Linked DNA regions of Homo sapiens. The protein of the gene in region 1 interacts with the protein of each later gene in a pairwise test. Each region holds a gene or a part of one and is shown in the gene's direction. Other genes may lie near its edges.

Region 1 (3,656 bases):
AGTTATCATATGAATAAATGTACAATTACTTTTTTATTCTAGGATAGATTCTTAGAAGAAATGGAATTGTTGGATTAGAGGGCACGGACATTTACTTTTGCTAGACATTGCAAAAGTGCCCTCCAAAATGATTATACCAGTTCAGATATCCTTCAGCAGTACCCATTTCCCCACACATTGGTCAACTCTGGCTAATAGCAATCTTTATTCATTTGATGGCCTGACAAGTTTTTGAATTTTTGCCAATCTAATGGGCAGAATGTTACCTTTTAAGATTTGCATTGCTCTGGTTATTAGTGATGTTTGAAATCTTTTTACATGGCCATTGGCCATTTAGGTTTCATCATATGGGTCCTTCCTTAGTGATTTTTTTTTAAACTGATACATGAGACTTGTACATATTTATAGAAGACATGGGGTATTTTGTTACATGCTTAGAATGCATAATGATCAAGTCAGGGTATTTGGGATATCCATTACCTCCAGTATTTATCATTTCAATGAGTTGAGAACATTTCAAGTCCTCTCTTCTATCTCTTTTGAAATATATAATACATTGTTGTTAACTGTAGTCACCCTACTTTGCTATCAAAATGTTAAAACTTACTCCTTGTATCTAACTATGTTTGAACCCATTAAACAATCTCTCTTCATTTTGCCCTGCCTTAGTAAGTTTTAAGTCTAAAACTTGAACCAGTTCCCCAGGAGAGTGTTCAGAAAGGAGATTCCTGTCTACTCTAAACCACAAAGCTGACAGCAGCCTTCCCTAACGTGAAGCCTTTAGTGGTGTGGTGAATAAGGTTGCTTTTGACAAAAGTTGTGAAATGTAATGACGGAGTCTGTCATAATATGAACAATCTCTAATTTATACTTACCATTCCCTAAGCTCTATGTCTTATAAATCACACCCACTTCTGAATTACTTCAAAACATTTTATGTTCCCTCCTAGTGAATGGTATAATTAGCTATATTATGTCTTTCCAGAAAGTTATATTATGTCCCTTTAAAAAAAATTAGCCAGTGTGTGATTGCTTATGTTCAAGCAGATGTTGAGGTAATGAGGTAATTCTCCTTTTGTCTTTTTTGGGGCTTTATTTTATTGGACTGATTGACATCTTTAATGCACCGAGAAATGGCAACTTTGGATACTATTTCCGAGGCATATTTCCTAGCTACTAAAGTGGATATTTCCCTTACAAAACATCATACAATTTGCTCCCCCTCCGGAATTCAGTGGGAAAATGATAGACTTAGTTCAGCATTTGTTTAAGGTGCATGATTTTCTGTATAATTCATTCAGCCCACATGCATTGAATATTCATAGCCAGGCACTGTGCTAGGCATCAGAGAGATAGAGCTGAATAAGACCTTGCCTCTGCTGGTGAGGAGTTCCTGGTCTAGAGATAGTGCTAGGCATGTAAATTCCAGGAGGAGTGTCTGATTGGCCTAGTTTGGCCAATCTCATGTATTCAAATACTTTGGCCACGGGAGGGCAGGATACTTTAATTGGCAGCCCCTGCAAAGATTGGAGGAATAGTCCAAAACAGAATGGGGTGCACTACCATGAGGATGCTGACCGGGCAGACACAGACAACACATGTCTGCTAAACTGTTCAGTGTAGTAATGCCATGTCATTTCCAAGTTGATGAAATTTTGAAGAGAGATGGCTATTTAATAATAAGGACATACATAAGAGGAAAACAACCACCACCACCCCAATAATGGGCAATTTTTGGGCTAACAGTATTTAAAATGGATTTCCTATGGTGAGGTAATTGGTTTTAAAGCAATTTTAAACCTCTTTTCACCTTTAGAGTTAGTATCGTTTTCCCCAAGATTATTGAGATGATACTTAAGTTCACATGGAAATCTAGTCAAGCTTATTCTTAGAGCAAGTTAGTAATTAAAAGATGCATCCAGTATTCCATTGGCTTCTAGGCCAGGAAATAACTGGAGCATTATTTTGACAAAACAGTCTGAAACTATTGCCTACCACAATGACCACGTCAGTCTGGGAAAACGGAAGCATTGACAATCTTGGGTGCATATGAGATCAGCCAGTAGAAAGCTGTTTGGAATTAAATGTTGCCTTGTTTTCAAGTGCAAACTTGGTTTTACATCAGTATTTTTCAAAGTGTGGTACAAGGGCCAGCTGCATCTGAATCACCAGGTACTTATCAACAATGCATTTTCCTCTGAAAGTTAGGGAGTGGTTGCTGAAGAACAACAGTTTGGCAACCCCCCATGAGATGAACATGCAGTGTGGGCTAAGGAACTATGTCTTCTAGTCAGAATTTCACTATTTCCTTAATATTATTTATTTATTTATGTATTTATTTATTTGAGACAGAGTCTCACTCTGTCACCCAGGCTGGAGTGCAATGGCGTGGTCTCGGCTCACTGCAACCTCCGCCTCCCAGGTTCAAGCAATTCTTCCGCCTCAGCCTCCCAAGTAGCTGGGACTACAGGCATGTGCCACCACACCCGGCTAATTTTTGTATTTTTAGTAGAGATGGGGTTTCACTATGTTGGTCAGGCTGGTCTCGAACTCCTGACCTTGTGATCCACCCGCCTAGGCCTCCCAAAGTGCTGGGATTACAGGCGTGAGCCACCGCACCCAGCTGTGAACCTTTTTTAAAATAAATGCAAAAATAAACACATGCTCATAGAAAACAAGTGTGTAAAGTGAAAAGTACAATTAACTATTCTATCTGACCCATTGTTTCTCAATCTTTATTTCATTATCACTCTCCTAAGGAAACTTTTTAGGCGTTTTATGCACTGTGACTCTTTGAAGGGCCATAAGCCATTGTAATATCCAAGATCTTTTCTCTTATCTCCTTGAGGATGAAATCACTACATTGACAATGCATGCTATGACCCCATTCCCATTTCCCAAAGTTAACTACTGTTAACCTTTTGTTTTCTTTCCTTCCAGAAATTGTGTTTGTATGTGCATATGTATTTATCATGTAATATGTAATTTTTTATATTAGTACATGTAGCGTTGTCATTAAAAATTGATTAATGTTCCAATGTACAGACGTACCACAATGTATTTAATGTCCTCTGGATGGACATTTCTATCTTTCTTTCCTTGTTTTTGCTATTACAAATAATGCTTCTGGGCTGGTTGTGTTGGCTCACGCGTATAATCCCAGCACTTTGGGAGGCCAAGGTAGGAGGATACCTTGAGCCCAGGAGTTTGATACCAGCCTGGGCAATGTAGTGAGACCCCATCTCTCTAAAAAGAAAATGCTTTTGGCACTGGATTCATGTTGGAGACATCAGTGTGAACTCATGTTTAGCTTAATACAGGTATGGATGGTTACACATATATATATATGTTGGTATATACATATATTTTCTTGCTCTGTCAGCTGAGAGAGCCTAGATGCACCAGTATCAATGAGCACATCTAGAGCCCAGAACTTGGCTTCTAATGCCATTCTCGAATAAAACGAACAGGGTTCCTAGGAGAAATGGCTAATTTTAGGAAAGGGGCAGGAAATATACAAGATGAGCCTAGGGCATCTTGTAGTGTGGAAACTAAGGAAATGCACCAACTGATAAGCTGACATTGATGGAGATACTGTAGTCCCTGCTTACCCATGGAGGAAGCTATGTTTCAACACCTGCAGTAGGTGCCTGAAA
Region 2 (3,656 bases), on another chromosome or scaffold:
TCTACCCACCTTTTTCTGTCGTAGTGACTCAATCACGGTAGAAATGTTTATTTTCCAGAAACGCCTGTGGCTTGGGGCATTTTCTTCTCTTTTCAAAAAGAGATTCATATTTCGAGTATCTGATGGGACTTCATCACTGTTGCACAACAGCTATGTAATTGCTTTAGGTGCTCTTCCTGCCGTGCAGTGGGTCAAGTGTCACAGACAATAATTTCATCCATGTGCTGGACCCCTTGTTCTCAAGTGTACGCTGCTAAATGGCATGATTTAAAATTCCTATACAGTGTTTATTGCCCTGTCGCATTTTGAAAGCCAGCCAGAAACATCAAACCGACATTTAGGTTCCCCGCCCACTCCGCCACCCCCAGCTCTTGGGAATTCATTTCTTCATCAAAGAGCCACCCAGGACATCAAAACAAAGCTTACTTTCTCAGGCCTTAATTCATCTTTAAAAAGTCATACTACTGTTTTCTTCAGCATCCTATGGATTTATGGGTTTTTTGTCATTATCTTTATTTCTTATTTTGCAGATTCAAATATGACAGTTGCTATCTTCATCAAAGTAACATGAAAGGATATCTTAATCATTGTTAAAGTTGATTTTTGTCCAAATATAAAAATCAAATTAAGTGTCTTATAGCTTACAATATTTATCAGCTTTTGATTTTTGGACATCTCTATTTGTTCTATGTGATCAACGCTGATTTTTTAAAAATCATGCAACTGGATTAATTTTTGATCTTGAAGCCCCCTGGATTATGTAAATACATATTATGGTTTAACAGAGAGGGATGAATGGGATTGAGAAGATATATGTCAAGATATGAAGAAGGAAAGAGGCTACTACACAGAGAGTTAGAATGACAGGGATTAATGAATCTTGCCTGTATCCCTAGTTATTTTTTTTACTGAGAAGACAGTGAGTAAGATTTAAGAGTGAGCAAGCAGTCCTATTTATAGAAAGCTGTTTTTAAGTGCAGCCGCAAAGACAGTGAAAGAAAGAATTGAAAATGCAAGAGATCACCTCCATACTAAATGCTAGCTTCCCCTAACGTCCCAGCTCTGTACAGCATTTTGTAGGAGAAAAAAACAAAAAAAAAAGCATACCAACCCTTGCAGAAATATTATGAAATCTCTTTGGACTCTCTGCAGAATATTCTAGAAGTGCTCTCAGTCTTTAAGTCTATGTTAGGCTTGGGAAGCTGGGGATGAGAAGGCAATATATATATTATCTGGAAACAGCTTGAGTAGGTCTGAACAAAAGACTGGAGGTGAAGGGAGGACATTGAACTTGCAGCACTGCTACAAATATTTATTCTGCAATAAGCCTTGCCTTTCTTAAAGATGTTTCACGGCAGAATAGTAGGAGGGTGAAATCTGCATACATCTCAGTAATAAAGCAATTACTGAGAGAAGAGTTCAAATTTAGGATCCTGTGATTATCACAAGTCCCTCCATGTTAACCTGTTCTCAAACTCTGGGGTTTTAAATTGCAATATATGAAGTCCTTATTTGTCAGTCTGTGTCGGGCAGACAATATCACCCCAGGCTTTGTGATTGACACAAATGTTATTGGACAAGGGAAAAAGAATGCCACATGCTCTTATAAATGAAATAGTCTTTATAAGATTCCATATATAAGTGAGATCATGGATTTTGTATGTGTGTGTCTGGCATATATCACTTAGCTAATGTCCCCCAGGTTCCTTAAGTATATACAATTTAGCATAAAAAAAGAAATGAAATAGTTTTCCTTTCTAGGCCTGTATTTGTTACTTATAGCATTCTGGTTTTCCTGGTTCCAAGTGGGCTTTGGGTTTTATTAATAGTAGAATCGTTGAATTTTTATGCAAATACTGCTGATTTACAGGTTGGAAATCTGGACAAAATCAGACCTGCCCTAGAAGATGATGCTGTGGAAAGTGTTTGCCTTTTGTCTTATAAAGAACCATCTATAAAATGGATCATTTTGTCGCTAGTCTCTCCAGACTATGAAATTGGCATTTTGATAAGGTGATGGAAAGAAATTTGAACTATTTAATTACTGATTTTGATTCATACAAGCCTTGACTCTTTTAGTATTAAAATGAAGAAACAGGAAACAGTTTTAAGTCTGGTTTTACATAAAATTTACACTTTTTTCACACTGAAAATAAAACAGTAAAAGCCAGCTTATAGTTCTTTCTAAATATCCCAACTTTCTCATTATTGGATGCTTCTGCAAAACAGCAGTATGGTGATACCACTCCCAGTGTTGACCTTGATGACCTGAGGGTCCCAAAGTGGCTTCAGCATTATCATGGAGTCACCACAATGATCAGGTAGAAGCTGGTGTTAGGACCAGCGTGAATGGGTCACAGGGGCTGAGGGGGGCTGTTGGGAGGTAGCCCATGCCGTATACTGAAGAGCCATCCATGCCACTTCAGGTGGGTGATTGCAGTGGACTCTCTTACCATTGATTAATCTTCCTAATATTGAGTAAAGCATTGATTCTTCTCATAAGCATGAACTGCTGGATGATGGGAACATTTCTGTGATTGTATCATAAGAGAAAGACAAGTAGAAAGATAATTAGAACTGCTGCAATTCTATGTATATTTTAATTTAATTTATTTTTTTAAATACAAAAGACAGCTATATTTCCTATATAATAAGGAAACTTATTACTTTAAGGAAATATACTTTCTCACGAGAGAAACTCAAGATTCAATTCTTTTCACAGTTAGCCCCGCTGTGGTGTGATTTGATCTTGGGTTCCATAGAGATACAGAAAATCCAAGTCCCAGTCTGCTTAATTGCCATGTTTATTTTTTAATCTCGGCTGTAGAGCATTTTTAATAACTGATATGTAGCTTGCAGGGTAGAAATAACAATGCTTTGGAATATTACCTGTGAGACTTTAGGAATGAGCTGAAGACACCCAACAATGACAACAATGGCCTCTACCAGCAAAACGGGAACCATGACTACTTTATCACTCCTGCCGGATCTAGTTCTTGTCAGTTCCTGCAAAGGCTAGTCACTTGTCTATTTCGTTGGCTAGTGAAAAGGAAATGCACAAGAAATGTGGAATGCTGTCTAACAGACAGAATCCTCCTTTCACAAGTTGTTTAAGTTGGCAGCCCAAGTTAGCAACCTCTATCCGGGTCCTTAACGTGACAGCAGAATGTGGGTAGGATGGTTAATTACCAGATGTGTCTGTTATGACTCACCCAAATCAATAGCTATTAAATCCTTGGTGGCTACTGTTTTAGAATAGGCTTCATTGAATATTTGTATAGAAATCTGGGTAGAAAAATGTGGACCTCGAGGTGATCTAGGTATTTGTTTTGGGCAAGGAACTCTCATCAGTGGTTGGTTTATTTGTGTCTTGGGGGATCTCACATCATCAGCCTTTATTAATCACAGGCACGAGGGGCCCCACACTCTCCCCCATACCTCTACCGCCCCATTGCTGAGGATGGGAGAGTAAGAATATAGAATATGCTGTAGGCTTCTGTGGGATTAGATGCTTGGAGGCAGCGGAGGCAAATGTTCATGGGAACACTGAATATGGAGGAAGAGGCTGTGCCAGCCCCATAGCCACACATCCCCTCCACCCTTACATCAGGATAAGAGGTAGACCACAGTCTGTTGACACTTCAAGCTGAACATTA

Evidence for each region. The genes of interacting proteins can lie anywhere in the genome.
Region 2: the proteins of SHTN1 (region 1) and DSCAM interact in a two-hybrid assay, tested with the Homo sapiens proteins (one large-scale study listed by BioGRID and IntAct).

The regions. Positions count from the first base shown.
Region 1 is NC_000010.11:116,998,602-117,002,257, reverse strand, and holds part of SHTN1 (shootin-1), read left to right. Parts: intron 1-3,656. UniProt on the Homo sapiens protein: Involved in the generation of internal asymmetric signals required for neuronal polarization and neurite outgrowth.
Region 2 is NC_000021.9:40,837,082-40,840,737, reverse strand, and holds part of DSCAM (cell adhesion molecule DSCAM isoform CHD2-42 precursor), read left to right. Parts: intron 1-3,656. UniProt on the Homo sapiens protein: Cell adhesion molecule that plays a role in neuronal self-avoidance. Promotes repulsion between specific neuronal processes of either the same cell or the same subtype of cells.